Linked DNA regions of Homo sapiens. The protein of the gene in region 1 interacts with the protein of each later gene in a pairwise test. Each region holds a gene or a part of one and is shown in the gene's direction. Other genes may lie near its edges. The genes, in order: SYP, WDFY2, PPIF and PITPNC1.

What was found.
Region 2: the proteins of SYP (region 1) and WDFY2 interact in binary tests that used the Homo sapiens proteins (3 or more experiments, as listed by UniProt).
Region 3: the proteins of SYP (region 1) and PPIF interact in binary tests that used the Homo sapiens proteins (3 or more experiments, as listed by UniProt).
Region 4: the proteins of SYP (region 1) and PITPNC1 interact in binary tests that used the Homo sapiens proteins (3 or more experiments, as listed by UniProt).

What each region holds. Positions count from the first base shown.
Region 1 is NC_000023.11:49,189,867-49,197,558, reverse strand, and holds part of SYP (synaptophysin), read left to right. Parts: intron 1-3,197; coding exon 3,198-3,393; intron 3,394-4,095; coding exon 4,096-4,287; intron 4,288-5,795; coding exon 5,796-6,122; 3' UTR 6,123-6,126; intron 6,127-7,692.
Region 2 is NC_000013.11:51,755,344-51,763,035, forward strand, and holds part of WDFY2 (WD repeat and FYVE domain-containing protein 2), read left to right. Parts: exon of another isoform or gene 1-14; coding exon 15-116; exon of another isoform or gene 117-988; coding exon 989-1,119; exon of another isoform or gene 1,120-1,197; coding exon of another isoform or gene 1,198-1,289; intron 1,290-2,848; coding exon 2,849-2,957; intron 2,958-4,396; coding exon 4,397-4,426; 3' UTR 4,427-7,015; coding exon of another isoform or gene 7,016-7,039; 3' UTR 7,040-7,692. UniProt on the Homo sapiens protein: Acts in an adapter protein-like fashion to mediate the interaction between the kinase PRKCZ and its substrate VAMP2 and increases the PRKCZ-dependent phosphorylation of VAMP2.
Region 3 is NC_000010.11:79,342,665-79,350,570, forward strand, and holds the start of PPIF (peptidyl-prolyl cis-trans isomerase F, mitochondrial precursor), read left to right. Parts: upstream 1-4,804; 5' UTR 4,805-4,884; coding exon 4,885-5,079; intron 5,080-6,411; coding exon 6,412-6,442; intron 6,443-7,000; coding exon 7,001-7,089; intron 7,090-7,906. UniProt on the Homo sapiens protein: PPIase that catalyzes the cis-trans isomerization of proline imidic peptide bonds in oligopeptides and may therefore assist protein folding. Involved in regulation of the mitochondrial permeability transition pore (mPTP).
Region 4 is NC_000017.11:67,688,030-67,695,721, forward strand, and holds part of PITPNC1 (cytoplasmic phosphatidylinositol transfer protein 1), read left to right. Parts: intron 1-1,241; exon of another isoform or gene 1,242-1,344; intron 1,345-4,542; coding exon 4,543-4,859; 3' UTR 4,860-7,692.

The sequences.
Region 1 (7,692 bases):
CTGGACTCTAGGACTATGTGGTGAGCAAGGCAGACATAGGCTGTGGCCCTCTGGCTCTGTTCCAGCGAAGGGGTAAGGGACAGGCAATAAACAAGATACAAAAGTAAGACAGGTGTATATACATACCTTAACCCAGTAGGTACCCAATTAATGTTAGCCAATATTATTATTTAATCCCCATTCATTCATTCTATACACATTTTTGAGAACTTATTTTATATCTGGTACTACTCAAAGTGCTGGAAGCATGATAGTAACTAAAACAGACCCAACTCCCGCCAGGCACAGTGGCTCACGCCTGTAATCCCAGCACTTTGAGAGGCCGAGGTGGGCGGATCACCTGAGGTCAGGAGTTCGAGACCAGCCTGACCAACATGGAGAAACCCCGTCTCTACTAAAAATACAAAATTAGCCAGGCGTGGTCATGCATGCCTGTAATCCCGGCTACTCAGGAGGCTGAGGCAGGAGAATCACTTGAACCTGGGAGCCGAAATCGCGCCATTGCACTCCAGCCTGGGCAACAAGAGCGAAACTCCATCTCCAAAAAAAAAAAAACCAGACCCAACTCCCTACCTTCATGGAGCCTACATTATAACAAATAAATTAACAAAGAGGATAATAGCAGACTGAGAGAAACTCGAGGAGATCCTCATGTAGGGTTTTATGGTAGAGAATAGAATAATGAGGGGTGCTGCTTAGATATAGGGAAAAATTAAACCCAATTAAACAATTCTGACATTTATTGAGCTCACACTGTGTGCCGGGCAATACACTGGGTGCTAGGTGCACAAGAATGAGCACGGCTGGCATGGGCACTACCCTCACAATGATGTTTACCTCCTGCAGGGTGGGATGACAGAGACCCACAGACACAATCCCCGCACAGGTTTCTGAGACTCCCCCACTATTTGGCCAAATCACATAACCACTCTGGGTCTCAATTTCCTCATCTGTAAAAAGGAATACTAATAATATCTACCTCACAGGGTCGTGGTTAGCATTCAATGAGTTAATATTCATCAGGTGCTTAGCACAGTGCCTGGCACACAATAAGTGCTCCATCAGTGTCTGTTCAATAAGTAAAATAAATTTAAGGGACTCAGGAAAGAGGACAGGGGTTGAGTTGGAAACTGGGGGTCTTCGAGTACTGAGGGTAAATGTAGGCTCAAGTGATCACCCAGTGGGGAGATGGAAGAGTGAAAGTAGAAGAAAACCTAGCACAGGCCCTGAGCAATGATGGAAAAGAGAGGAGATGCCGGGAAAGTGTGGCCTGAGAGGCAGAGGGGCAGCCAGGTATCCATGGGTCCACAAAGGCAAGGGAGAAAAGAGTCTGGGGAAGGAGGGGGAGCTGGCAGCAAGGGACACTGCTTAGAGCCAGTCCTTTGGGGATCCACAAGACCACAACCATCCCCTGTGCCCCCTCCCCACGCCTCCCATGTCTAGAACTTTGGGTCCTAAGGCTCTAGCCCACAAGTCCCCTAGAAAAACAGTCTTGGCCCTGGGTCCCCCTGAGCAAAATCCCTCCCAAACTGCCCTAATACCCAAGGACCTCTCATTCCCTCTTAGGGACCCCCTCTCCTGACCCAGCCCACTAGAAACAGAAACTCAAACCCAGATGCAACTCCTAGCTCCATCATTTAGGAGCTGTACAACCTTGGGCAAGTAATAACCTTGCTAAGCCTCTGTTTATTCATCTGTAAAAAGGGTCTAATAATGCCTTCTTTAGAGAATTGCTGGAGGCTGTCATTAATGAGACATTTATGTAAACTGCTTAGTAGGTGACTAATAAGTGCAAGCCTCTTCCCTCAGGGCCTTTGCTACACAAAGGCATTGGCACCATTTGCTCAGTCTCAGGATCCTGGCCTCCAATCTGAGACTGTGCTCCAGAACTTCTCCCACAGACATTTTCTCTCTACAACCCCCACCTCTCCTCCATCACACCACAGGAAAGGCCTTAGTCCCAGGACACCTCCCCTCTTCCCTCACATACACACACCCTGTTCCAAGATCCCTTTACCCTCCTTTCTTTCTGTCTGTCTTTTCCTGTTATCTAGTCGCTGGCCTCTCCTCTGCTATGCATACATTTTTTTCTCTCGGGGACCTGAACTGGGGTGGGGGAGAAAAGTCAACATGAGATAGGGAGAAAACAAGGTTCAGATCTCAACTCTGACATTCCCTTGCCAGCTGTGTGACTTTAGGCAAGTTAATGCACTTCCCTGAGCCTCTGTTTCCGCCTCTGTACATTTCATTTGATAAACATTTCTTGAGTGTCTGCTAGGTGCCAGCACTGTTCCAGGGCCTGGAGATAAACGGAGGTGAAAACACAGGAAAAAGCCCTGCCCTCTTGTAGTTACAGCAAAAACCAAGATTAAAAAAAAAAAAAATACCTGGTATGTCAGATGGGTACCACTACTATCGAGAAAAGTGGAGCAAGGAAGCCAGGCTAAGAAGTGCTGGTTGAGAGAATGTTTCAATTTAATTTTAAGTAGGGAGATCAGGGAAGGTCTCAATGAGAAGGTGACAGTTGAGCAAAGCTTCAAGGAGATGAGGGAGGCCGGGCGCAGTGGCTCACGCCTGTAATCCCAGCACTCTGGGAGGCCAAGGCGGGCAGATCACAAGGTCAAGAGATCAAGACTATCCTGGCCAACACGGTGAAACCCCGTCTCTATTAAAAGTACAAAAATTAGCTGGGCGTAGCGGCGCATGCCTGTAATCCCAGCTACTCAGGAGGCTGAGGCAGGAGAATCGCTTGAACCCGGGAGGCAGAGGTTGCAGTGAGCCGGGATTGTGCCACCGCACTCCAGCCTGGTGACAGAGCAAGACTCCATCTCAAAAAAAAAAAAAAAAAAAAAAAGGAGATGAGGGAGTAAGACCCGAAGCTATCTAGGGGAAAAGCATTCCTGGCAAAGGGAACAGCCAGTACAAACAAAGATCCTAGGGAGGGAGGATGCCTGGCAAGTTCTAGAAATAATCAAGAGGCCAGAGTGCTTGGGTTGGAGTGAGGGATGAATAACACCTATCTCACCAGGATGTTTTGAGCAATCAGTGAAATGTGACTGGTACATAGTAGGTGCTCGATGAATGGTTATTTCCTCCTCTTCCTGGGGCCTTGTCAGAAATGGGGGGACCCATGATTGGGCTGGAGGGTTGAGGGTGTTCTGAGGGGCTGGGCCACACCTGCCCACCTCTGTTTGCAGGCTGCACCAAGTGTACTTTGATGCACCCACCTGCCGAGGGGGCACCACCAAGGTCTTCTTAGTTGGGGACTACTCCTCGTCAGCCGAATTCTTTGTCACCGTGGCCGTGTTTGCCTTCCTCTACTCCATGGGGGCTCTGGCCACCTACATCTTCCTGCAGAACAAGTACCGAGAGAATAACAAAGGGCCCATGCTGGTGAGTCCCCACAGCCACTTGCATGTAGGGACCATGGGGACACGGAACCCCAGGGACACAGCCATGCTCACAGACCACACCAAATCCCAGACAGGCCCACATGCAAACAGCCACCATAACAGCCACACATATAGTTGCTGCTGCTATTAATCCACACCAGGCATCCGGGACACAGAGTCATAGAGTCACGGAGACATACAGCCTATGCAGAATCCCAGACAGGCCCACACCTGAGAACCTTCCCACTCTCACACAACTACACAGCCTAGATCAAAGGAAGAGGCCCACAGAGGTTCGCTGTGACAGTCATGCCTGTCATCATGCCACACAGACACACTGATTCCTACACCACTGTACTCACATACCCTCAGCCTAGACACAAAATGACAAAAATTCCCACATGCAGACAAAAGTAGAAAGACACATTACTTTCCACAGATTCGGAAATCATCCCAGAGTTCCCCTCCCCCCAACACCCACAGCCACATATCACAATCACACTCCCACATCCTCTGTGTCATGTACACACACAAGCTCAAGCTGGGAGGGCCACCTTCAGGTGAAAGTGTTGTGGGCTTGAGAGCTGAAAAGGCAGGGGAGAGACAGGCCTCTTCTGGGGGACCTGTGATCCGAGGAGGCCCCAGGGCCTAGCGTGAAGCAGTCCACTCACAGTGCTGTCTTCCTCACCCCTGCCTGCCTTAGGACTTTCTGGCCACGGCTGTGTTCGCCTTCATGTGGCTAGTTAGCTCATCGGCATGGGCCAAGGGGCTGTCAGATGTGAAGATGGCCACAGACCCAGAGAACATTATCAAGGAGATGCCTGTCTGCCGCCAGACAGGGAACACATGCAAGGAGCTGAGAGACCCTGTGACCTCGGGACTCAACACCTCGGTGGTAAGCCCTGGGTGCTGGCTGGAGGAGGGAGAGTGGAAAACAGTACAGTCCGGCATGGGGAGTGGTGGAGTGGGAGAATAAGAGGAGAGTCAGGGGAGATCCAAGGGGTGTCCCTGAAGAACGCGTGCCAACAACAACGTTGAAGGATGAGCTAGCAATTGTAACCACTGTGACACCACAGACTGTCCCCAAAGGGGGAACATGACAGGTTTGGGAGACCTGGATCCCAGACCCAGCCTAGACATGTAAAATAAGCAACTCAGCACCCTCTTGGGACCTCAGTTTCCTCATGTGCAAAATGAAGGAAAAACTTGAAATGTTTCCCCACTTGGATGCCCCCTACTGGCTGGAGTCAGACTGTCTGCGCTCAAATCCCAGCTCTACCTCTTGCAAGCTCCCTGACCTGAAACTAGTCACAGCCTCTCAAGGTTCAGTTGAGCATGCATAATCGAAGACTAATAATAGGTCCTGCTCCAAAGTTGAGTATTTATTGAACTAAGAATACGGAGTGCTCAGAAAAGGGCCTGGCACAAGGTAAGTCGTATACAAGGGTTACAGATGCTAAGATTACAACTTTTCTTTCCTGTCACTTGCTGGATGTGAGACTTCAGGTAACTTAGCCTCTAGGGCCTCAGTTTCCTCAACTGTAAAATGGAGATAGTATTTCCTGCCCAAAACTGAATTTTAAGTGAGCTTATAACATGTAAAGCTCTTAGAAGAGGGCTTGGCATATAAGGAAAGGTACAGAAAGTGTTTTATGTCTTAAAATTACTTTATGTGGCCGGGTGCGGTAGCTCACGCCAGTAATCCCAGCACTATGGGAGGCCGAGGCGGGCAGATCACCTGAGGTCGGGAGTTCAAGACCAGCCTGACCAACATGGAGAAACCCCATCTCTACTAAAAATACAAAATTAGCTGGTGTGGTGGTGCATGCCTGTAATCCCAGCTACTCGGGAGGCTGAGGCAGGAGAATTGCTTGAACCCGGGAGGCGAAGGTTGTGGTGAGCCGAGATCGTGCCATTGCACTCCCGCCTGGGCAACAAGAGCGAAACTCCATCTCAAAAAAAAAATTATGCAAGTTTCATATATCTTATACATGTGCACTTATACATATATTTTATCTACATTTATTTAGATGCATGTTAGTGGTATAGCTATATTTAATAAGTTTGTATCCTTACATTTTACTATGAATATATTACAAATTTACATTTTAAACATGCATAAATGTGTATATAATGTGTATATGTGCAAATATGTAAATAATTGTATATGTAATACTGATAGATCGCAGCATCCCCAGGGCTCCAAATTCTTCTAACACGCCCACCCCGCCAGAGGTGATTTTTCTGCACATCGACGTTCTCGCACTGGGACTCAGAGAGTCTGGGTTTCAGAAACCCCCACCTTGCGGAGCCTACGGATTCATTCCCCGCATGCTCATTCCTGCACGCAGGGCCGCCAAGGCAATGGGCGGGGTACCACAGCCGAGCCTTGTCTCCCTGCAGGTGTTCGGCTTCCTGAACCTGGTGCTCTGGGTCGGCAACCTGTGGTTCGTGTTTAAGGAGACAGGCTGGGCCGCCCCGTTCCTGCGCGCGCCTCCCGGCGCCCCCGAGAAACAACCGGCACCCGGGGACGCCTACGGCGATGCAGGCTACGGGCAGGGCCCCGGCGGGTACGGGCCCCAGGATTCCTACGGGCCTCAGGGCGGCTACCAGCCTGACTATGGTCAACCAGCCGGCAGCGGTGGCAGTGGCTACGGGCCTCAGGGCGACTATGGGCAGCAAGGCTACGGCCCGCAGGGTGCACCCACCTCCTTCTCCAATCAGATGTAGTCTGGTGAGTGACCGGCGAGCGGTGCGGCCAAGGAGGGTACAAGGAAGGAGACGAGCGGGTCAGTGAACCAATAAGAGTCAGGGGTAGAGAGTACGTAAGGCGTTTACTGGGGCAAGTAAGGACTGAAGTTTGAAGGAGCCAATCAAGAGGCAGAACTACCTGCTAAGAGCTGAAAAACTAGCTAATGAATGGAGAAAAGAAGAATGGTGCTTCAAGATGGACAGAATGAAGAGCCAATGGGAGGGAGGTAGAAGGGCAACTCGGCGGAAAGGCGGGGGGAGAGAAGCAGAGCAACCAATAAAGGGAGGGAATATCGGGGGACTTGCGCAGTGGCGAATCAGCGGAGCGCAAGAGCCACGGAAGCGACGAGGAGGTGGGTCTTAGAAGTGACTGATAAGCCAATAGGTGATAAGGCCAATAGATGGTGAGGGTAAATGGGCGTGGATCTTGAAGGTCAGACGAGCTCACCAATCCGGGAGGAGGGGATAGATCTGCCGCCTCTCCCCAACGCTGGAGGGGAGGGAAGTAGTGTGGAATTTCAAAGGAGGAAGAGGGATAGGGTGGGGTCCTGGAAAGGTTTGCCGGCCTTCTTGCTGGGCCTTAAAAGAGAAGTGAGGGTCGGGGCTTGGTGGCTCATGCCTGTAATCTCAGCACTTTGGGAGACCGAGGCGGGCGGGCCGCTTGAGCCCAAGAGTTCGAGACCAGCCTGGGCAACATGATGAAATCCCACCTCTACAAAAAATACAAAAATTAGCCGGGCGTGGTGGCATGCATCTGTGGACCCATCTACTCAGGAGGCTGAAGTGGGAGGATCACTTAAGCCCAGGAGGTTGAGGCTGCCGTGAGCTATGATCCTGCCACTGCACTCCAGCCTGGGCAACAGAGCGAGACCTTGTCTCAAAAAAAAAAAAAAAATGGAAAGAAAGAAAGGAAGAAAAAAAGAAAGAAAGAAAAGAGGCCAGGTGAGGTGGCTCATGCCTGTAATCCCAGCACTTTGGGAGACCAAGGTGGGCAGATCACCTGAGGTCAGGAGTTCGAGACTAGCCTGGCCAACACGGTGAAACCCCGTCTCTACTAAACATATAAAAATTAGCCGGGCATGGTGGCGCACGTCTGTAGTTCCAGCTACTCTGGAGGCTGAGGCAGGAGAATCGCTTGAATCTGGGAGGCGGAGGTTCCAGTGAGTCGAGATTGCGCCACTGCACTCCAGCCTGGGCAACAGAGCGAGACTCTGTCTCAAAACAAAAAAAAAAAGAAAAAGAGAAGTGAGATTTCCCTCAGATAGGAGGGAGGATATAGGGGAGGAAAGGCAGGAGGAAAAGGCTAAGGGGTGGCTAAAAAGTGGGGGAAGGCAAGAAGGTGGCAATACTTGGATGGAGGTAGCTTCTGACACTGGGTTAGCCAGGATGGAAAGGGCATCCCACATCTAATTCATCAAAAAATCCTGTGGGTCCTACCTTCAAAAAATATATCCTTCATCTTCCACTGTCATCTCTCCCAGACCTCTTCTCAGGTCTCCATTTCCATTCTGTTCTACTCACAGCATCTGGAGGGATTCTGTTAAATCCT
Region 2 (7,692 bases), on another chromosome or scaffold:
CTTTATTTGACAAGACCCCTGAATGGTTGGACAGTGATTCCTGCCAAAAGTGTGATCAGCCTTTCTTCTGGAACTTCAAGCAAATGTGGGACAGTAAGAAAATTGGTCTAAGACAGGTGAGTGATATGGATGCTTCATCAAAATGTAATTATATGGAAATAGCTCAACCATGTGATCTTAGAAGAAATAACACCCCTGGGTGGGAGTTGTGGTGAGGGTAAATTATTATCCTGGAGTCACCTCGTGATTGCACAGTAATTTACTCTGTCTACCATAGCCCATTCCTACTGGATTCAGTTTCTGTAGTGGTTGGTTCCCAGTAAGCAGTTAGGGATGTGATTTTAGAATTCTGTTGGCCTCTATTGCAGTGCACCTTACAATTAGAGGTGTCATGCTTAGTTCGTATGGAAACCAGACCATGAAATTATATAAGTGGTGTTTCTCTCTCCTTATTTTACTTTCCCTCCTTCTGATTAATTTTAGTTATTTAGATCTACTTATAATACAGCATTTTCAATCTGATTCCATGGTTCTGTTTGGTCTTCCCCAAGGAAATCAAATGTTAGGTCACCTAGGCTTACCATGGCCAAAGTCAGCAGATTCAATCAGGTTTCCTGCATGTTCTCCTTCATCCAGCAGCATAATCTCCTGAGACGGCAGTTTCTCAGACACCCCGCTTTAAGATCACCTGGCCCCTGGGTGGTTCCTCTGTAGTTCCTAGTATGATCATTGGAAAGGACCAAGAGTAGGGAAAGCAGGAGAGTGGGGTGGTATCCCTGTCAGGTGTGTTACCCAACAGTCCTTGTTGAATAAACAGAGCCCCAGAGAAGAACACATCCAATGTGTTCCCTTTAGTTCTGGGGCTCTCTTGTTCAGCATCCTCACCTGGATGCAGTTGATTACACCTCTCTGCCAGGAGGGGTGAGATGCGGGGGCCTCAGGAGCTGAGGGAGCCGTGATGAGTATCTATTTTATCTCCCTCCTCCAGCACCACTGCCGCAAGTGTGGGAAGGCCGTCTGTGGCAAGTGCAGCTCCAAGCGCTCCTCCATCCCCCTGATGGGCTTCGAGTTTGAAGTGAGGGTCTGTGACAGCTGCCACGAGGCCATCACAGATGAAGAGTAAGTTCCTGCAGCCTGCAGACCGCTTCAGGTTAAGGCGAGAATTTAATCTGAGCCTTGCACTCAGCGCCGCAACCATCACTCAGGTTGCTCTAGTTTCTGCTGGTTTAGAATATAGTCCACGGCAAGCAGTAAAAGCTCTCCTTTGCCACCAAGAGATTTGTGGTATCCTGTGAGATGAGAGAAGAGAAAATACACTCAAAGAATTCATCTCTGTGTTCTTTCTAATTTCTAGGTTATGTGCCTTTAAATTAGCTGCTCCCAGAACAAACCCTTCTGTCTGCTCATTTACTTGAGAATTACCCAGGAGTATAAGGGCTCAGGATTCACTTTCTGTCCCAAGCTGGTATCTTTACAGGAGTTGAGTGAGTCCATGGGTCCAGAAGGTTTCATTTTCCGGGAAGAGCTAAGTCGCTTTACCCAAGAGGCAAATATTCCCAGTTGCCCAGTTACTCAGCTGGCTGCTTGTCAGACCTGCCCAGTAACCCAGGACATAGGTTACTTACCCCTTGGTGTGCTGTGGAGGTGTGGGGGCAAATCTATGTTATCTCTTTAGTGTTGGCTCATTGAAAGCTGCCCCCAGATGTAAACACAGTGCTCTGCAGCATTTCCCTAATTTTAGTGACTTACAGGAGGATCTGCAGGGTAGCTTGTCTTCTCAATCCTTCCAGCACCTTGTATTACAGTAAAATCATAAGTAGTCTTATTTATCCATATCAAATATAAAATAAGATGCCCTTGCATAAGTATGCATTTATGTTCATTGATTATTTTCTACTCATCATACGTGATGAAATTAATGAGAGTTTTCTCATTGAATTAGAGAGTGCAAGAGACCTTAGAGATAGCCTACTTTAATTCTTCATTTTGTAGCTAAAGACATAGACTTTAAGAGTTTAAGGGACTTACAGTTAAGCCTAAATCTTCTAAAAATTTAAAGTAACCATTTTAAGATACTGAAGATCTATCCTGCAGATTTAGCTATAGAAAAAAGGAAAAAAAAAAATTGTCCTGAGAGCCCACTGCAGTGGAGTGGGCCCCTTGAAGCATGATAAGAGCAGTCTCCTAGACTGCACCCTGCACCTTTTCCCGCCTCTGTTTCTTCTGCCTCTTCTCTGTGGAAGCACTTGCATTGCCTCTAGAGCACCTAGGCAGCTGACAAGTCTTCTTACTTAAAAAAAAAAAAAGTATAGGTAAAAAATAATGATGTTTGTTTTTTATTTTGTTTTGCTTGTTACAGCTTTAGAATACTATAGAAAAACCAAGTCTTCAGTCATACCAGTGAAAAAGGAAAAATGAATGGAGGGGGATAGTTTTCCTATTAGAATGACACTTAGTAATATCATGGGACACTTAGTACTATCTTGGTCCTTTTTTTTTTTTTAATTAGACTATTTTACTGGCAAGTCCTTCTGAGCTCAAACTTAGCAAAAGCCCTGTGGTTTTAAAAGCTCGGGTGGAGATTATCACAGACACCATTGGAGCAACATTCTCCAGAAGGACTTTTAGAAATTTTCATCTCTTTCCCATTTTAAAGACTATAAGATTTCTTGTATTTTTTTTTTATCATAACTGGTCACCAGGGAATAAAGGCAGATCTGAGGAGCATTCCTGTCAGTGAAGCAGTTTTAGCCACGAGGCCAAAATTTAGAGCCTAATGTCATCCTAGATCTCTCTCATTCATATGTCACCACCTTTTCCCCTCAGAAGCTTTCTTTGCTCCTTCTAGACGTGCACCCACAGCCACCTTCCATGACAGTAAACATAACATTGTGCATGTGCATTTCGATGCAACCAGAGGATGGTTACTGACTTCTGGAACTGACAAGGTTATTAAGGTAAGATGCCATCTTATTAAGAAGCTTTCCATCTTTGGCCTCATATAAATATACAGGAGCACCAAGAACATGGGAGGCACTGTTCTAAAGGTTATCCTTGGGTAGCCGGCCATGGTGGCATGTGTCTGTAGTCCCAGCTACTCAGGAGATTTAGGAGGGAGGATTGCTTGAGTCCAGGAGTTGAAGGCTACAGTGAGCTTTGATCACATCACTGCACTCTAGCCTGAGCAACAAAGCAAGACCTCATCTCTTAAAAAAAAAAAAAAAAAAAAGTTACCATTGAAGGTGAGTGTTTTTGAGAACCTATTACAAACCTGATACATGCACAGCCTCATCCCAGGCACTGGCTCTACACAAAGAAATAAGACAGAGCTCCAGCCTGCAAGGAATAGATAGTCTACTTGGGACAGACTAAAAAGACTGTAATAGGTCACATATGTAGCAGTCAAAACGGTAATACATATGAGAATTTATAGCACACTGAGCTCTACCTCCCTGACCCATTCTTGGAGGTCACAGCAGGATGAGATAGCTAAAATAACCCACTTTGGAAGCTACCAGATCTCCGTGACTTTGAGAGGAAGTTTAAAATAAACTCTGGGGCTGGGTGTGTTGACTCACGCCTATAATCCCAGCCCTTTGGGAGGTGAGACGGAGGATCACTTGACCCCAGGAGTTCAAGACCAGCCTGGCCACCATAGTGTGACCCTGTCTTAACAAAAAAATCAAAAATTAGCCAGACGTGGTGGTTCCTGCCTGTAGTCCAGCTACTTGGGAGGCTGACGTGCAAGAATTACTTGAGCCCAGTAAGTCGAGGCTGCAGTGAGCCATGATTGTGCCACTGTACTCCAGCCTGGGTGACAGAGCAAGACCCTGTCTCAAAATAATTAATTAATTAAAATAGGATAAACTCTGGCAGCCTCAGGTCCTTTATTTTTGAAAACGAGGTATCTTGTAAAATGGTTTGGAAGTTTAAATGGAAAGGACACAGCACGTGCTTGGCGTCCAGTTAATGGATTGAGTTATTTAATGGATTCAATCTATTTGGAGGGTGGAACAAATCTATATTGTCGCTTTCATGTTGGCTCATCGAATGCTGCCTCAGATGTAAACACAGTGCTCTGCAGCATTTCCCTTTTAGTGACTCACAGGAGGATCTGCAGTGTAGCTTGTCTTCCCAGTCCTCTCAGCCATTAATAGATTGAATCTGCCATGATTCTTCATGAGCTGCATCAAAATTTCAAGCTGTCATTGTCTTGTTTTTGAGCTTTATTTGAACTTTTTTGATGAAAAAAATATTTTACAGATTTGGAAATCATGTTAGTATAGTATGTGGTGGTTTGTTAAATGAAAAAAATTTCCTTGAAGAATTCAGTTCTAAGGACTGTTATCCTCAACACAATTTTAGTTCATTCTGTATCTTCTTTTTCTTTTTGCAGTTGTGGGATATGACCCCAGTCGTGTCTTGATGACTCTCCCAGGAATCAGAAAGATAGTATTTACTAAAGAAACGGTTGTTTTAACCCAAATCATTACCAGAGTGGTAAAGCAGACATGTGAGAAGTAAGAAAGAAACTAAAGACCCTGAATGAATTTGCAGATTACCCATGTGCACAGTGGGGACCTGGCCAGTGAGCACTCGCAAGGGGACTCTTCCAACTTGTTCATACAATATAAAAGAAGCTATTTTTTTAACAAATGGTTTATACAGTCTGGCTGTGCTGCATTGTTTTGAGTGTACCGAAAAATCTGTGTGGGGTGTTTAATTTTTATACTTTTCAACACCCCATTTTACTTGTTGCTTTGTCAGAGAAATAAGGGAGGTATCTACTCAGAGTATTTTGGTCATTATACTTTCTGTGTTTACTTCAACATGTGTCACGTGGCCAGCGGCTTTTTCTTCTCTTCCCTCTGCACCTACCTGCACCTTCTCTGCCTTTCCTGGAGGGGATGTATTTATGTTATTTATTCCCAGTGTTTCTGCTTTCATGTCCTCCTCAGTGGAGAGATTTGGAAACTCATCATGTGGATTCACCAGCCAGCTGCTGGAATTGCCTGAAGAGCGATTTGTTTGTAATGTCTGCCTCATTCACGTTCTTATGAAGTAGAAAAGACTGTGTTTCTGCCTCAGTTGCCTCTGTCTTTCCCACATTAAAAAAAAAAATGCTGTGAGAAAGCTGCTCCCAACCATGGTTATCACAGAAGTAGATTATTTTAACTCAGAGCTTCAACGATCAGTGCCTGGATCATTTAGAATTCAGTTGGAGCCTCCTGAGCCTCTTGTTTTAGCTTTTTTGACGCAGCTCTCCCTCACTCGTAACAATGAAAACAAATGACACACACACAAAATCCTACATCAGCGGCCCTCAACCTTGTTGGCAGCAGGGACCGGTTTCAAAATGAAACTGTTCCACCTCGGATCAGCAGGCATTAGCTTCTCATAAGGAGCACGCAACCTAAATCCCTCGCATGCGCAGTTCACAATAGAGTTTCTGCTCCTGTGAGAATCTGACGCCACCGCTGATCTGATGGGAGGCGGAGCCCAGGCAGTAACACTTGCTTGCCCACTGCTCACGTCTGATGGGTGCCCCCATTCCTCACAGGCTATGGACCAGTACCCATCTGCAGCCCAGGGTTGGGGACCCCCACCATACATGCTCTGAAAATAAGTGTCTTTAAGTTGTGTTTTTCTGTGTGACATCATCTCTGAACTTGAACATGTTCATTACGGCAAGATTGTAATCCTGCTGTATTCCTCGCCCTCTGTATTCTATCCCTTTAAAAACTAGATATTTAAACATTTTATCCTAATGTGTTTCATCAGAACACTTTGCACACTTTCTTACTAAAACGGTATGTGGGTGGTCCGAGACAGAATGGTACCTACAGTGCAGGCTATGTTTCTGTGGGAATGGAAAAGAGGACTTTAGAAAGTGAACCTGAAGAACTCTTATTTCTAAGGGAATCCAGTCAAGCTTGAGAAAATGAAATATTCTTGTGTGTAGTGATTCAGCTCAGGATATTGAAGTCCCTTTTAAAAATCTTATTTTCACCTGTAAAAATAGAATAAAAATTAATGGCAAGCCTGCGCCAGGTGCCTGCCCCTCCTAAGCACTTTACACGCACAGCTCATTCAACCTCACGTGTCGGGAGCATCAGGGAGCTCACCAGTCTCTTGAGGATCACAGGCCAATTGCTTGTCCTTCCCGACCCAAGCCCCACCCCACAGTGTCTTGCTCTCTTCTGATTTTACAGGTTTTTTGGCAGTAATACACATGGGAGTGAAATTGAAATCCTCCCTATTATTTTCCCTCTTTTCCTGGAAAGCCGTTTTTTGCCCTCACAATCATTCATTACTTCTCTAACTAGGGGGAAGTACTACAAGCTGTCCTCAGGTACTGCCCCTACGTGTGTTTCCCTGGGATGGGGCCTTGCTAGAGGTGATTCTGCTGCCCCAGCATTGGGAAGCAGGACCAGTGCATGTGCCCCATGCAGCCACGGTACATGGAAGCTGTCACTTGAGCCATCAGACCGGCTCAGCCCATGTGACCGGAGCTCTGAAGAGGCACACACGCATGCCCCGCACAGGCTGTTAGCACTTGTCGCCTCGCTGCCCTGGTCCAGACTACCCTTGCTTGCGTCAGTCAAAACTGTTGTAACTACTTTGAGTCTTTTCTGCATGATTGCTCTTTGAGAGAACTTTAACAAGGGAATTAAATTTAAAATATTCAAATATCTATTTTGTAGTTTATTACTAGAAGCTGCAGCCACTTACTAAGTTGTATGTAATATAGGACTGTGTGTTGGAAATGAGTAATAGAGCTGAATCACTCCATTTTCCCTTCCTAAACTTTGAGCTTGGCCTGCCGGCAGAGAGAGGAACACAGTATTAGGGCAGCAAAGGCCCAGGCGCCCAGCAAGCCTGTATGGGTTCTGAGATGGGTCTAGATGCGTTCAGACCTCATTCGGGAAGCAGAGTGTCCCCGTCAGATCACATATGTCCTCTACAGTCGCTCTGGCCTGTGACCTTGCACGCCACTCTACCTTCTCCCTCCCAGCCCACAGAGCCACTCAGAGGCTGAAGCCACTTCACAGCCCACTGGTGTTGAGAATCATCATCAGAAAACCAGATATGTCAAGGTATCCATTGCTCTTTCCTTTTCTCTCATCTGTGTGGGTGCTTGAATTTGGTGAAATGCGTTTAGCAAACCAACTGTGTGTTTGTAATACTGTGAATTCTTGCGTTTTGCATTAAGTGTCTCCCCCATTTTTGTAATTTGTAGAGAAATATGTGCTGGTGTTGGGTGTCTTCCAAGCATTTTATGGAAATGGAGGCTCCATTCCTTAGGAGTAAAAGCTGGCGCCAGCACTTGGCTCTTGTTCTGTCTAGGTGAACTCTCATAATTCTTGTTTTACCCTGTTGGATTTGCACTTTACATATATTTTTGCTCTATTACTTAAACATATAGCAGCTTTTACAAATAATGCCTAACATGCCTGCGCTGAGAAAGTGGCAGATCTACACATATCATACGCAGAGTTGTTCTCTACCTGATGGGGCAAAACCAACCACATGTTCTTGGTTCCTCCAAACGAATGACATTACTTGACATTACTGCCTGAGTGTATCTTCACAATAGCAAAATGGTTTGAGATTAAGCATTTGGAATCTTATGTCATTTTGTATGGGGTCAATCCACCATAACGTGTTTCTCATTTGGTTTTAATTATTTCC
Region 3 (7,906 bases), on another chromosome or scaffold:
GGAAGAAAACGGCTGCGTGGAGGGGATGATGTCTGGCACAAGCCAGCTCAGAGGCACCACTCAGAGCCCACCTGCCCCTGGAGACACAGAGCCAGGTGAGTCAGGAAGAATTCCACTCTCCACTTGGCCCTAGTGTGACCTTGGGCACATCATTAATCTCTCTTGGCCTCCATTCCTTTATTTGTAAGACAGGGACAACAAGCTCCACTTTGCAGGGTCACCCTGAGGCTCAGAATGACATCTACAAAGTGCGGAGCCCAGCACGGAGGTATTAAGTGAGGCCCCGTCCCCTTCCCAGAGGCCAACAGGATGCCATGGCCAGACCCTCAGGCCCTCCCGCTGAGGACTCTCTCCCAGCTCCTCCACTCTCCCAAGCTTCAATCAGTCTCCCTCAGAGGCATGAGACAGAAATAACCAGCCCATTCCACGTCTTTACAAAGACAAGGAAGTCCTGTCTCTTGGACCAGTTCTCCCTGACCATGCCCGTGAGGTCCTTGCCAAGAGCTGGTGACCAAGCTTGCTGAGACAGCAGATCCAGGACTGGCTGTGCATGGAGCAATGGGATCTTCCAGGAGTCCTGGCTGGGGTGGGGTACTATGGGTATGAGTTATCCACTGCACATGGCAAATGACCCAACACTTAGTGGCTTCAAACAACAAACATGGATTATCTTGCAGATACTCCCAGAAGGCAAGCTCTGCTGAGTTGTGAGTTGCAGGGGGCTGTGGCCAGGCAGGTTGTGTGAGAGCCCAGCAGCTGAGGGTGAGCCACACCCTACTGAGCTCCACCCTACCACACTGGCTCCGCTCTCAGTGGCCCGCAGTGATCCAGATCACACGAGTAAAAGACCAGCTGGACTCCAGAGGAGAGCTTCGCCCCATCTTCCCCTTGTGGGTCTCTCTCTGATCACTGTGCCCACCACCTCCCTGGGCCTTAGTGGAACCTCCCTTCTCTGCCTCTGCCTCCCCATCATGGTCTGGTTCTTAGAAGCCAGCAGAGAGAGGATGATGAATGTACTGACTTTGCAAAGGCCACGGGGGACACTCCATCCCCAGAGAGTCCCACAGCAACCCAGTAGAAGGGTCTGGTGGCTTTCTGAGTCGCGGGGAACCTCTCTCTCAGTTTCCCTTCCCATGACAGATGCTATCCTGGACCCCAAACCCCTCAAGCATAACCAGACAGATGAAGTCCATGGCCTCATCCTACCTAAGGACCATTGTCTAGGCTGGCAGCACAGGTTGTATGACCCAGTGACTGGCACTGGTAATGATCTCAGCCTTCATGATATTTAATATTATAGAAACCCCACCTCATGCCCACACCGGGGCTACCTTCACCCCCAGCCCCTCCTGGAGGGTCTCTCCAGAACAACTGTAACTTTGTACCCCACGACAACCACAGCGTTCACTCCTGCCACACACAGGGCTACCTGGGAGAGGTTTGTTCAGCAGTTCCAGCATCTCAGGACACCATAACCTCCTGTCCCTGTCTTTGTCCTTCTGAATCCCCAGGGTGAAGCTCAGGGCTCAGAACACAGTAGGTGCTCTGAAAACATGTCTGCTGAGTGAACTTTGCAGAAAGGGCCCTGGGGAGAGTGAAGAGAGGGTCTGACCACAGTCCTGGTACTGCCCAGCTGTATGGCCTCGGGCCACTCCCCATCCTTCTCTGAGCTTCAGTCCTCTCACCTGTACAGTGGAAATCAGAGCTTACAAACTATCAGCCCAGAGTCCTCATCTAGTTTGGATACGGTGTTTACAGTTCATTCGGTGTTTAATTTTATTTTGAAATTCATTTCAAAAATTTGAAAACTAGATTTCTATAAAACTTAAAGTCTTCAGCTTTTATTGAAAGATGAGAAAACCTGGGTGGCCTGTGTGGACCCATAGTCCCATATACAATAATTGGCTGGCCTGGGCAGCAGCTACCTCTTTACCTGGGACATCCATTAGCTATCTGGATACAGTGCCACCTCCCCTCACTCCCTACATACTTACCAGCTTGCACCACTCATGTGTATCACCTGCCTGGCCCCCGCAGGCATCTGAGTTTGCAACCCCTGAATGAGATTCTGAGCTTAGCACAAACTGATTGTTCTTTGGCTTTGTGAGGCCTAGAGGTGGTGTTACAGGATCCCTAGGTGACAAAACCCATCAGCACCCTGGATAAAAAACCATGTGAGCTGAGTGGAGAGAAACACTGCTGTTTCTGAGGATAACACAGTCTATAAATAGCCTCAGAGCCAGGTGAGTGCTAACACCTGCCTGATGTCACCTGGGCCCGGAGCCCTCAAGGGCTGGGCATGTGTTCAGCTCATGGCTTAGCCTATAGACTATCCTTCTTCCTGATACCACTGAGAACAGAACAGGAAGGGATGACATCATAGCTAAGCCTTTGGGGAAGGTAGGCTTTTCTCTGGCTTAGGAGGTAGTGATGACGTTTGATTTTCCAAAGAGAGTGGAAGGAGTAACATGAATGAAAGAAGCTGGTTCCCAGTCCAGAGTCCTCAGCATGGAGTCTTTGCACTATTCATGGCTCCCCAGTGCTATCCAACAATGTCAGACCTCAGCCAGGCCTTCAGAGCCCTCTGTGATTGGGTCCCCACAGGCCTTTCAGCTCATGCTCACTATTAAAACCATCTCCCTAGTCCCTGAGCTCCATAGCCCCCTGGCCAACTCCACCGTTTCTATCTTACTGTGTTGTCTGCCCAGGCTTATCTCTCTTGCCTCCCCACCCTGTCCCAAGGACCAGCTTCGTGGTGAGAGTGAGAAGGGTTTGACATGCAATAACCCTGATTGTGAAGTCAGACAGACTGGTCCCAGTTCCAACAGCCTGCCCTTGGGCAATTCACTCCCCAGCCCCTGGGGCCTGGCTTCCCCATCTGCAAAACAGAGCTGTCTCTCAGGCAGAGTTCACAGCTGGGAAAGGGTTCTGAGAACTGAAGTGGTCAAGTGAATGAAGGCAGCACTCCCCTGGGGTGGGGATGCTCATGCTTCATCAGGATGGGGCATAAACTGAGTCCCCCCAGGAGCAGGCTTGAGAAACAACAGGGTACGCTGAGCTACCTGCTGTGGCTGAAGGTCCTGTGAGCTCAGGGCCTGGAACTGGCCGCAGGGAAGCCTGGGGCCTTAAGGAAGCTTCATGACAAGGCACATGGCGTGATTCCTCCACTCTCAAATCCACAGGATGCACTGGTAGAGGAAGGTCTGGGACATGTGCTGAGGGCTCAAGTGGGCTCCCCACTCAGGCCTGCTCACCTCAGGGCACAATCATAAGAAAGGAGGGGCTGCTCCCCAGGGCAGAGTGAGGCCCCATTCTGGGCTGGGACCTGGAATGCATCCCACCTGGGCTTCACTGGGTGCCTAGGCCCCTCCTAGGCCAGGAATCGGAGAAGGGGGCTATGAACTTCCAGAAGCCAAGCTAGCCAAACTTCCAGAGGCCAAGCTAGCATTCTTATGAAGCTAGGGCACTGCTCTGACCTCATGAATTTGCTTGGCTGGCATTTTGCTGCCTGACCTGTTCCCATGAGCCCATTCAGGATCTGGGGCAGGTCAGTCCAGAGCTGGTCCCTACTCCTGCCCACCTGCCTCCAAGGCTCAGCCCCACCCCTTTCTCTGACCCCTCAGGCCTCTAACTGAGACCGCAGCTCTCTGAATCCCAAACTGTGAGAAAGACAGTCCAGACTCTGTCCATCACAGATGCCCACAGGCACAGTACTTAGTTGACAAATCCATGTCTCTCTCGTTCATTTTATCCTAAGAACAGACACGAGAAAAAAGCAGGATGAGGAGCATGATCGCACCCTTACCCTCCAGATGGGAAACTGAGGCCCAGAGAGGCCTGGAGCACTGGTGCAAGCTGGTAGCAATACTCCAGGGCTCCCTAGCCCTAGCCAGTGCCTTCCTGTGTCCAGGCCTCAGCTTCCCCTGGGGACAGTACAAGTGTTGGGCCAGATGCTCTCTCAGGTCCCTGCGTGGCATCCATTTATTGCAGACCTCCCACCACCTTGCAGTGAGGGTGGCTCTGGCTGCTGGGAAGCCCACTTTCAGCACGTGGGGTTTAAATGCTCCTGCTGTGGGTCTCCCCACTGAGTCCCCTCCCAGGGTGCATGCTGATGGGAGGGGGCAGCTGGCAGTCTGCCCCGGGGCTGTCAGTGTGGGTCCTAGGAGGAGGGATCAGACCCAGTCCTGGGGAGGGCTGGGGGCCTGAAAGGAGCATGATGAGCCCAGGCTGCGTTTTCAGTCTTGCTAGAAGCAGGTCTGGTCCCCAGAAACAACTAGAGACAGGCCCAGGCCGGGACAAGCAGGCTAGGGGGCATCATGGGAGGTGTCTCAGCTTATCTCCTCCCTCTTGCGCCTCTAGCTCACTAATCCCGCCTCTCATCTCACCTTTCTCTAACCCTCTCAGACTGCAGGACCTAGGGCAGCAGGGAAGCTTATTTGGCCTGAGCCTTACCTGCAAAGGGCTCAAAGGTAGACTTTTGCTATTATATTCAAATTGCAACGTATAGATGCTCATATTTTGGAATTAATTACGTTTTAGCAGTTTTTCTTTTTTTAAAAAAATCTGCTGGTACCTTAATAAACATGGAACCAGCAACCTTTTGCCAGGTGTCTGTTCTCCGGGTCTCTGGGCCTGGAGGCGGGAGTGTTTCAAAGCACTTCACGCTCCGCGGCCCCACCGGCTGGCTGCGCTGCCCGCTGCGGCCGGCAGGGGTAGTCCACGGACAGGCCTGGAGGAGGCGGGACGGGGGCAGGGCCGGGAACCTGGGCAAGCCAATAAAGGCTGCGGCGCGCGGCTGCGCGGGACTCGGCCTTCTGGGCGCGCGCGACGTCAGTTTGAGTTCTGTGTTCTCCCCGCCCGTGTCCCGCCCGACCCGCGCCCGCGATGCTGGCGCTGCGCTGCGGCTCCCGCTGGCTCGGCCTGCTCTCCGTCCCGCGCTCCGTGCCGCTGCGCCTCCCCGCGGCCCGCGCCTGCAGCAAGGGCTCCGGCGACCCGTCCTCTTCCTCCTCCTCCGGGAACCCGCTCGTGTACCTGGACGTGGACGCCAACGGGAAGCCGCTCGGCCGCGTGGTGCTGGAGGTGAGACCGCTCGCAGGGCCGGCCTGGGCGCGGGACACGGGCCCGGGGAGAGCCCTGGGCCCCGGGCGGCGCGGTGCCGGGCGCGCTGGGTGACCTTGGGCCTCCCCATGCCGAGCTCTGGGCCTCAGTTTCCCCATTTCTGAGAATGGGCGTCAGAATGATTTCTTCCGGCCTCCCTCGGAGCACTGGAGCGGGGGAGACGGGAGGGAGGGCACGTGTGGAGGAGAAAGCTCAAGGTCAGATCGCAGAGAGGGAGGGCTCAGCACCTCTGGGCCGGCCCGGGCACGAGGGAGGGGCTCCAGGAGCCTTCTGGGGCTGAGCCTAGATCCGGAGCTCCGAGGTGGGTGTCGGGGGTCTTGGGGTGAGCGTCGTGGCCCAGCGGGTGCTCACGTGGCGGCCCTTGCACAACACGGAGCGCTTCCTGGCTCCGGCCCCGCCCCTGCGGTCGGGCTCACACTGGGGGTGCTGGGAAATGGAGCGAGAGGTGGTTTCCAGCAGTAGTGCGGGCCCAGTAGGCCTCAGGCCCCGGCCACCTGGTGGACCCCAGAATGCCCCTCCTGCGAGTCGGGACACACTCAGAGACAGTGTGCCCGGCGCCTCAACCCCTGCCACTGTCCTTGGGGGCCACACTGAGCACCTCCCCTAACTCTGTTTTTGGGTCTTTTCTAAAGCAAAGTAAGAAACAGTCACCAGGGTAGCTTTAGAGGGAAAGCCCTAGTGGAGCCTTCAGGTCGGCCACACATTGACAGCAGGGGTCTGTTTGTGTTGACTGGCCCGTATCCCAGGGAGCCCTTAGTATTTCTTCTTCATTCTCAGTTTCTTCTGGAAAATAGGGACACCCTTCCTGCTTCCATTTGGTTCCAGGGTGGGTCTTGCAGCTTCGAGGGTAGAGGCTGGCTGGGATGGGGCTTCAGCCTTCCCTCCCCACACCCTCATGCCTCTCCCTGGGCCTCAGTTTCCCAACCCCGAATGGAGGAGCTGGTCTGGCTTCTACCTTAGACACACTCTCTTGTCCCTGAATTTCTGATGCTTTGGGCCCAGCTGTGGGAGCACTGCCAGCTGTGTCCACAGAAGTAGGCCAAGATAGCATTGTCATCTCTTCTGACAGATTAGGAAACCAAGGCCACCTCCTCCAGCCTTGGGTTCAGGAAACGGCTCCCAGAAATGATAGAGCTGCCTCCCATGGGGGTTGGCAATAATGGGAATGGAATGTCCACGTGCTTCTTCCTTAGCCTCCTTGGCCACTGTGGGGGTGGGTGGGTGCTGAGAGACACCCACCTTCACCTGCCTCTCCAATGACCATCCTCTTTTGTCCTTCTTCTCCCCCAACAGCTGAAGGCAGATGTCGTCCCAAAGACAGCTGGTAAGACAGGGCCTGGGGCCTTCTGAGATGGGTCTAGAGGGAAGGGGGCCAGGCAGGGCAAGGTGGGTGGCGTGATGAGAAGAGTCGGGGCTCAGAGACCCCTGACAGATGGGAGCTCCATGTGTGGCTCAGCCATTGGGTGCTCTGGGGCAGCCCTGCCATCCCTCTCTGGGCCTCAACGTTGGCTCTGCCCTCCTCTCTCATAGTAGCTGGGAGCCTCAGAGCCAGTGGAAGGCACATGTAAATTTCCCGGAGACTTCCCCACTCCTGGTGCCCAGTGAGGCAGGGTGATGGGCACACAGCCCTTGAGTCCGTGCCCTGCTGGCCAGCACAGCCATGAGCCTGTACTCTTGTCACAGTGCTCAGGTACTGAGGACAGGGAAGGGGAGTGACTTGTCCAGTTACATAGCGAGTTGGGCAGAGCAGACCCAAGAGGTGGGCCAGAGTCTTTATCCCCCTGTTCACTGCTGGGGATGTAGCAGGGATTTTGGCTGGAACGGGTATGACCCTGGAATTGGGGCCTGGCCCTGTTGACCTGTGTTTCTCTTCGACCCTCAGAGAACTTCAGAGCCCTGTGCACTGGTGAGAAGGGCTTCGGCTACAAAGGCTCCACCTTCCACAGGGTGATCCCTTCCTTCATGTGCCAGGTAATGTAGTTTCCTCTTCTGTAAGGGGGGATGAGAGCAGGAGCTGCCTTGTGGGTGTGTGAAGATGCCTGGTATGAGGAAGGTGCTGAGCAGAGCAGCTGCAGTTGCTCTGTCAGCCAGGCTGCCCTCCCTGCATTAGCCCTGTATCCAGGCTTCACTGCACATGGAAGCCCAGCCCCAACCCGCTGCCACTCCAGGTCAGTGGCAGGCCCTGCCCGGGGGACTGGGAGGTGGAGTCTATCAAGAGAGAGCTGGGTTGGGAGATGGATGTGCTGGGGGTGGCCTTGAAGACTTTGAAGAGCCAGCATATTCCAGTGGTCTCTGACCTTGTCCCCTGTGTGCCCCTGAGCACTGGTGTGGGAGATAAGAGAGGGAGAGAGAGAAGTGGAGGAGGCGGAGGAGGAAGACAGGTCCAGGGCAGGAACACACACGCCAGGACTTGGGGCTTCCCTTCCCAGAGAAAGGCATTATTCTCGGTGAAATGAATGTTTTTCGGTCATGTGTCATGCTCAGTTTTCACAAGCATTGGTATTGCTGTGTCAGAGGTTTGGGGGTAGGTGTTGTAGCAGGAGCTTCCTGTGGGTCAGGACCCAGGTGGTGTTGGGGCTGGTCTTCTATTAGCACAGACCTTCAAGATCAGGGATTGGGTGTCCTGGGCAGGCAGAGCCTGGAGGCAGGGGCATGGCTGTCATGACCTCTTTGAAGACCTTCCTGCCTGGAATTCTCTCCCCATTCCCTCCACCCTGACCCAGTGGCCGTCATCGTACCGTGGTAAGTGGCAGCGGGTTGGGACTGGACGTCTATGTGCGGCGAAGCC
Region 4 (7,692 bases), on another chromosome or scaffold:
TAGGTGTTAAAAAAAAAAAAAAAAATCAGCTGGGCGCGGTGGCTCATGCCTGTAAGCCCAGCACTTTGGGAGGCCGAGGCAGGTGGATCACCTGAGGTCGGGGGTTCGAGACAAGCCTGACCAACATGGAGAAACCTCGTCTCTACTTAAAATACAAAATTAGCTGGGTGTGGTGGCGCATGCCTGTAATCCTAGCTACTCAGGAGGCTAAGGCAGGAGAATTGCTTGAACCTGGGAGGCAGAGGTTGCAGTGAGCCAAGATCGCGCCATTGCACTCCAGCCTGGGCAACAAGAGCAAAATTCTGTCTCAAAAAAAAAAAAATCAATGCTGTAGTTCTAGGAAATTTAGATGTGGCTGTTGTCATAAATGGATCCTTTAGAATTGTGAAGACCTTCTGATTGCACTTTGGAAATTTTTAGTTAAATTTTTGGAGCATGTCTTTGGAATGTGCCCTGCAAGTCTCATGTGCTGCAACTGGTTGCATGTGATTGCCCTTGAGGTTGCAAGGGCCCTAACTCTTCTCCCATTTTGCATGCAGTGATCTGATTTGCAGGAAACTGTTGGAGCAAGAGGCGTTTCCTCTCTATGCACAGACCAATTCCAGTAGGACTTCCCCCTAGAAGTGCTCTTTAAGGAAACTCTCCTTGAATTTCTATCACTTTCAATTACCTTTTCTTTTAGAAATGTTGGGCCCCAGTTCCCCCTCAGCCACTCTGAAAGCCATTCACTATAAATATGACCAGGCAAACAAAGGAAGAAGCCACAGGTAAAGAGGAGACACCAGATGGCTAAAAGATGCTAAGCTCAGTGATTTTCTCACAGCTTATAAGCCCCTTGGCTTGGCTTTCTTTCAGTTTTACTGTGATTATTACTTTATAATTAAAGTCCATGGCTGGGTGCGGTGGCTCACGCCTGTAATCCCAGCACTTTGGGATGCCAAGGCGGGCGTATCACCTGAGGTCGGGAGTTCAAGACCAGCCTGACCAACATGAAGAAACCCCGTCTCTACTAAAAATACAAAATTAGCTGGGCGTGGTGGCGCATGCCTGTAATCCCAGCTACTCGGGAGGCTGAGGCAGGAGAATCGTTTGAACCCAGGAGATGGAGGTTGCAGTGAGCAGAGATTGTGCCACTGCACTCCAGCCTGGGCAACAAGAGTGCAACTCCATCTCAAATAAATAAATAAATAAATAAAGTAAAATAAATAAATAAAGTAAAATAAAAAATAAAGTCCACTTACTATGTAGAAGGTGATAACGTAGAGTGGTTCTTCCCATGGAAAAGCCCACATAATCTCTGGCTGCCCCTCAGCGTTGTTCCCGTGACTTCAGGGTGAAAGATGCCTGCCACCGGAGAAGTTACACAAAGTGGTTATTTTGAATGCTTATGACATTTCCATTATCCTTTGGAATTCCGTGAAATTGGAGCACATTTATTTTTCCTTAGTCTTTCTCCTGTATCATAATGAAAAGCAGTGAAAATCAGGAGGTGGCTCTTTGTCACAAATAAAAACTGCATGGGTGCTAAATGAATTTTAGATCATCAACCCAAGCAGGGACAAATTAGATTGAAATTAGGCAAAATTAACATCCATGAACACAGCAGTGAGGAAATAAGTCTTTTCAATTGAGCAGGTTCAAAGCCTTCAAGGACGGGAACTTCTAAGAGCCTCTGGGAGTGGAAAATCAAAATTCTGTGCTTTAGATTATTTCTGCCCCCTGCTGGCTATGTGGAGTAGAACAATGTATTCAGCCACTTGATTAAGAAAGTCTGCTTTTTCAAAGATAATATCCATTTATCATAGCAAAAACATAACATACCCTGATACACTAAAATTTTTCTCAGTCTCAACTTTATTGTGAAATAAATGCCTCTTTTTATATAACCTTAATCTCACTTCTTAGCTCATTTAATAGTCTTCCATGTTTTTAAAAATTGGTAAGTTTATAGGTACAATTTTTCTTGATATATGCTGAATTTTATATCTTATCCACATAGTCATAATGACTTATATCCTTTGTAAAAACTTTCCCTTTCAGAAAATTTTAATAATTGTTCCCAGGAAATCCTCTTAAGGATTTCATTTTGTGAAAAATACTTCTGGTTTGCTCAGATGTTATAAAACCTAAAGATTAAGCTGGGCACGGTGGCTCATGCCTATAATCCCAGCACTTTGGGAGGCTGAGGTGGACGGATGACCTGAGGTCAGGAGTTCGAGACCAGCCTGGCCAACATGGTGAAACCCCATCTCTACTAATAACACAAAAATTAGCCGGGCGTGGTGGCAGACGCCTGTAATCCCAGCTACTCGGGAGGCTGAGGCAGGAGAATCGCTTGAACCCCGGAGGCGGAAGTTGCAGTGAGCCGAGATCTCGCCGTTGCACTCCAGCCTGGGAGACAAGAGCAAAACTCTGTCTCAAAAAAAAAAAAAAAGAAAAAGAAAAGTCCTAAGGATTAATACTGTGTTATGAATATTCATTACATACTCAGTATTTCCAAAGTGGCTATATTGTTTCCTGCTGGTTATTCCCTCCAATATTATCTAATGAAGTTTCAACTGCTAAGTACATGGCAGTGGACAAGAAACAATGAAAAATGGGTCTCTGGGGGGCCAAAACAGATACAGAAAATCCGCGGGCACTAAATTTTGCATTTTGCTCCAGGATAAGCCTTGGGCCTTGACTCAGTCTTTAATAAGCCCAGGTTCCTCTTTTCCCTGTTCCCAGCAAGTAAAAATGGCAAAGGATACCAGGGATAGCCAGGGTAACAATAATTAATAATAACAGTAATAAGGCTGGGCACGGTGGCTCAGGTCTGTAATCCCAGCACTTTGGGAGTCTGAGGCAGGTGGATCACGAGGTTAGGAGTTCGAGACCAGCCTGGCCAACATGGTGAAACCCTGTCTCTGCTAAAAGTACAAAAATTAGCAGGGCATGGTGGCACGTGCCTGTAGTCCCAGCTATTCAGGAGGCTGAGGCAGGAGAATTACTTGAACCCAGGAGGTGGAGGTTGCAGTGAGCCAAGATCACGCCATTGCACTCCGGCCTGTGCAACAGAGCAAGACTCTATCTCAAATAAATAAATAAATAAATAAATAAATAATAACAGTAATAATAGAGTTTCTGAGCATGAGAGAAGAGATATCAAGCCATAAAGAGCAAATAGACCCTGAGAAGGAACTAAGGAACTGTATTTTTGCACAGTGATATATCTTCAACATATTATGTCTCAAATGTAGGAAGTATGTATAATACATTAAACACATTAGGGAAAGATTTACATTTTTTAAATACTGTTTTTACTTTCTCACTTAAATAAGAACATTTCAGGTATTTGGAAAACCTACATTATCCAACAATGATTATTAACAGTGGTATCACTGTCTTATTTGTTGAATTCCAAGTCATGCTTTTTTTTCTTTTAAATAGAATCCTCACTATTAAATGATCCTCTCCTTTCATTCTCTATTCTTTTTAAGTTTCCTCAAGAAATGGTTTTATTTTCTTGGCTTTGGAATGATTAGCAGGGTGTGGTGAAATTGTTGATTTACGTGTTTTTGAAACTGAATTTATTAAAACACAATCTCTGAACCTTCTTAGGATCGACACACAGTCAGGAAACCAGAAACAACAGCATCTTTGTGGCCCCTCAGAATAAAAAAGTATATGTATTGATTAAGAAGATAGCATGTTGGCCTGAGTACAGTGGCTCACGCCTGTAATCCCAACACTTTGGGAGGCTTAGGCAGGCGGATCACTTGAGGTGAGGAATTCAAGACCAGCCTAGGCAACATAGCGAGACCCTGTCTCTACAGAAAATACAAAAAAATTAAACCAGGCATTATGGCATGCACCTGTGGTTTCAGCCTCACGGGGCCCTAATGCAGGAGGATCACTTGAGCCCAGGAGGTCGAGACTGCCGTGAGTCATGATCGCACCACTGCACTCCAGCCTGGGTGATGCAGTGAGATCCCGTCTCAGAAAGAAAAAAAAAAAAGAAGATAGTATGTTGAAAAATCCTGATGATTTACCTGTTTACCCTATAAAGGTATACTTTCATGATCTAAAGTTGACAATAATGACAATAATATGTGTCATTTCAGGGCCATTGATTGTTTTAATTACCTTCTCTTTATGAAAAATATGACCAGTTAATTATAGCTCCAAATACCCCACACCAGACCCACAACAACACAGATGCACACGGGTGCACACACATACACACACACAGGCACATATTTCCCCCGTCTAGTTCTGTATTCTACTGTTAAGTCCTTATTGAGAATACTTAAAATACTCACTGTGAAGAGTGCTTTGGAAAATCTTAAATGGATAATCATAAAGGGATATTGTTTTCAGGGTGTAGCTTCCAATAGAAAAAATTGGGGGTTTGGTATTTCAATGATACTTTGGGTGTATAATCGGGAGAGGCCCCTTTATGATAGGGTTCCCATAGTTCCTGTAAAAACAAGGGTAGTGATGAATCTATTTGCCTCTCTTATAAATAACTGCTCGTTTTTCTTTCTGTTTTTCTCCTTGAAGACATGACAATGGATGAAGTCCGAGAATTTGAACGAGCCACTCAGGAAGCCACCAACAAGAAAATCGGCATTTTCCCACCTGCAATTTCTATCTCCAGCATCCCCCTGCTGCCTTCTTCCGTCCGCAGTGCGCCTTCTAGTGCTCCATCCACCCCTCTCTCCACAGACGCACCCGAATTTCTGTCCGTTCCCAAAGATCGGCCCCGGAAAAAGTCTGCCCCAGAAACTCTCACACTTCCAGACCCTGAGAAAAAAGCCACCCTGAATTTACCCGGCATGCACTCTTCAGATAAGCCATGTCGGCCCAAATCTGAGTAACTTTATATAAATATCTCATGGGGTTTTATATTTTCATTTGTTGTTGTTGTTTTTTTTTAAGAATCTTCTGATAGAGAAAAAGACTGCTTTGTCACTCAAACATGTTCCTTCGACCTTTCAGTGTGCATGTGACTCAGTAACTTCACATAGAATATGATTCCCTAAGTATGCTACACAGCATCATATTAGATGTAAGATGTAAGACTTGCAAAGGACAGAAGGAATCTTCTGTAACCACATAGCTGTATGCCAGAGAGGAAGCCTTGTTATTGGGCATTTGATGAGGTTTGGCATGGACTTCAAGGATAAATGAATGAAAACTTTGCACCACTTTTGTTACAAGGTACGGTAGAAAATAGTGAAGTCAGTTTCCTCTCATCAAATCTAAAATTCTCCAAAATACTCTCAGGCATAACATACTTAGCTGTTAAATTTTGAACTGCTAATTACTAATACTTGAATACCAATAGTTACTGAGATTCCTATTTTGTGGTTAGTCTGACTCAGGATTTGGAGCCTAATTAACTCTAAACTTTTGAAAATTTTAATCATCAAGCTATAGAGGCTCCAAGTGCAATTAATAATAACTCATTTATACCTTCCACAGAATTTAATAAAGATTCTACTTGTTTCTGTCTTTTAATAACTTTCCCCTTTTGTGCCCTTGTGGCCTCAGAAATCCTTAAGAATTGCATGGATGAATGTGACCATAACTGATTTTGGAATGGTTCAGTTTAGGAACCAAGAGGCCCAGGTGAGGCAACATCTTTTTTCTCTACAGGTACCAACAAACCTTGACTTGTCAGCTTCCATCATCAATTAAGATTCTCAGAATTTGCAATTAATTGAATAGAATTCATTTACTATCTGCCCACTCAAAGAAGTACAAGGGTAGAGTAAGCTAACTGGGCTTTAACATGGTCAGAATGTCTGGTGCATGAACTATAAAAAAGAGAACTGTCTCCCATCCCCTTCCTTGTTTTACTCTTAGTAACATCCAGAATTCCCTGGAACAGATTGCCTACCACCAGACCTTAGAAAAGACTGTCATTCTCTTGCTCCTTACTTGAAATACAAATATTGGGAATGTCACAGACATCAAGCAACTACTGTCAAGTGGGAGGAGAGAATGAGCAGAATTGCTGACTCCTATTTGTAGAGTGAAAAGGAGGAGTGATAATAGATGCCCTTCTGTCTAGCTTTCCTTTCTTCAACTAGTGGTAATGCAAGATTAGAATCAAGGTTGACAGGAGGCAAGGTCACTCACTGAAGTGACAGAAAGACAATTCTCCTTTGCTCCAAAGAGAGAAATCTGTCACCTTTGCACCTCACTGCCTTTAAACACAGACGGGAGGGCAGGCCAAATCTCAGCATTGACTTTTGTCCTCCAAGAGAGGAAGAGAAGAAGTAATTGGGCAACTTGGAGGCCCACGCCCCAGCTAGCCTTCCTGATCGTAACCTCCAACCTCAGGAAAGGGACCTTCCCAAAACACAGATCCCAAAGGAAACAAAATAGACCAAGGAGCATAATCTGCTTCTCTCACACAGCCTCTCTGCCAGTGGACCCTGCCTGCTTCCCTCTCAGTGCTCAGCACTCTGTGTAGTGTCTTTCAGGTTGATACACTCTCCCAAGGTGCAGGCGCTGGCCCCATGAGCCCAGCACCAAAGTTTTCTAAGTCATAGGTCAGACTGTCAAGATCATTTCTTTATCTATAGGTTGATATTTAGCTTAAAAAAAAAGAATAAACCTAGAACTCAAAGGAAACCTGTTGCAAATAGCTTAGATCAACAGTGTATCTCTTCCCTAAGAATGATAGTATCTTAGTAAGACACCTTCTATGCATGGTATGGAAGCATGATTTTTGCTTGTGGGAAAACCTAATATTTTATCAGACCCCTCGGACTTCTCAATCCCTCCCTCTCCACACAGTAGTACTTAATGAAAATGTTTTGCTTTAGAGAGCAAAATGCTACTTTCAGAAGACACTGAAATAGTATATGTATTTGCTTACCATTTGCAAGCTAAAATCAAGGTGGGATGGGGTCATTATTTTCACATAGAATGTATTTATTTTGTGCAGGCTGTTAAACACATCTGGCACCTAGTTTTTCCATTAAGAGCATTGCTATTTTCCCTTTTTATAAAGTAGCTTCTGCTGTCAAGGTTAACAATTCTATATGCTTTAGGAAGCTAAGTTCTAATTTCCTTTTGTGAGTTTCATTTCTTTTATAACCAGTATGTTACCACAGACATCAGTTGCAAAGCTACGATGATAGTGTGATTCTTAGCCGAAAAAAAAGCGTGTGCTCTTAAAGTATGTTCAGTTTTTCTGTCTACATATGCTTTGTGTGAGTTAAAAAGGGGGTGGGTGGTGTAAATATTCCTTTAGCTGCTTTGCATATTTAACCCAGTCATCAAAAGGCATAAATGACTTCAATATTTTATATATCTTGGTTTTCAAGTATCATTTCACATTCTCTATACATGACTTTGTTATTGTGGAATACAAGCCTGCAATGGATGTATATATACAGAACATTAATAATTCTTAGAAGGATGGAAGCCAAATGGCTGCATGATGGAAATTAGAAGAAAAAAAAAGCAGAAACTTGAATTTGCTAAGCATGTTTGGGGGGAAATAGAATCCTTAACTCAGTGCCTCTGTCTGCGATATGGAAACCTTCAACTTTGTTCACCAAAATTGTATTATACCTGTGTATATATATATATATATATATATATAAATATAAATATAGTATAGTGAATCAGACACCATCAGTTTTAAGTCTCTGGTAGCCAAACTTAAATAAATAATCCATAGAATATCACATA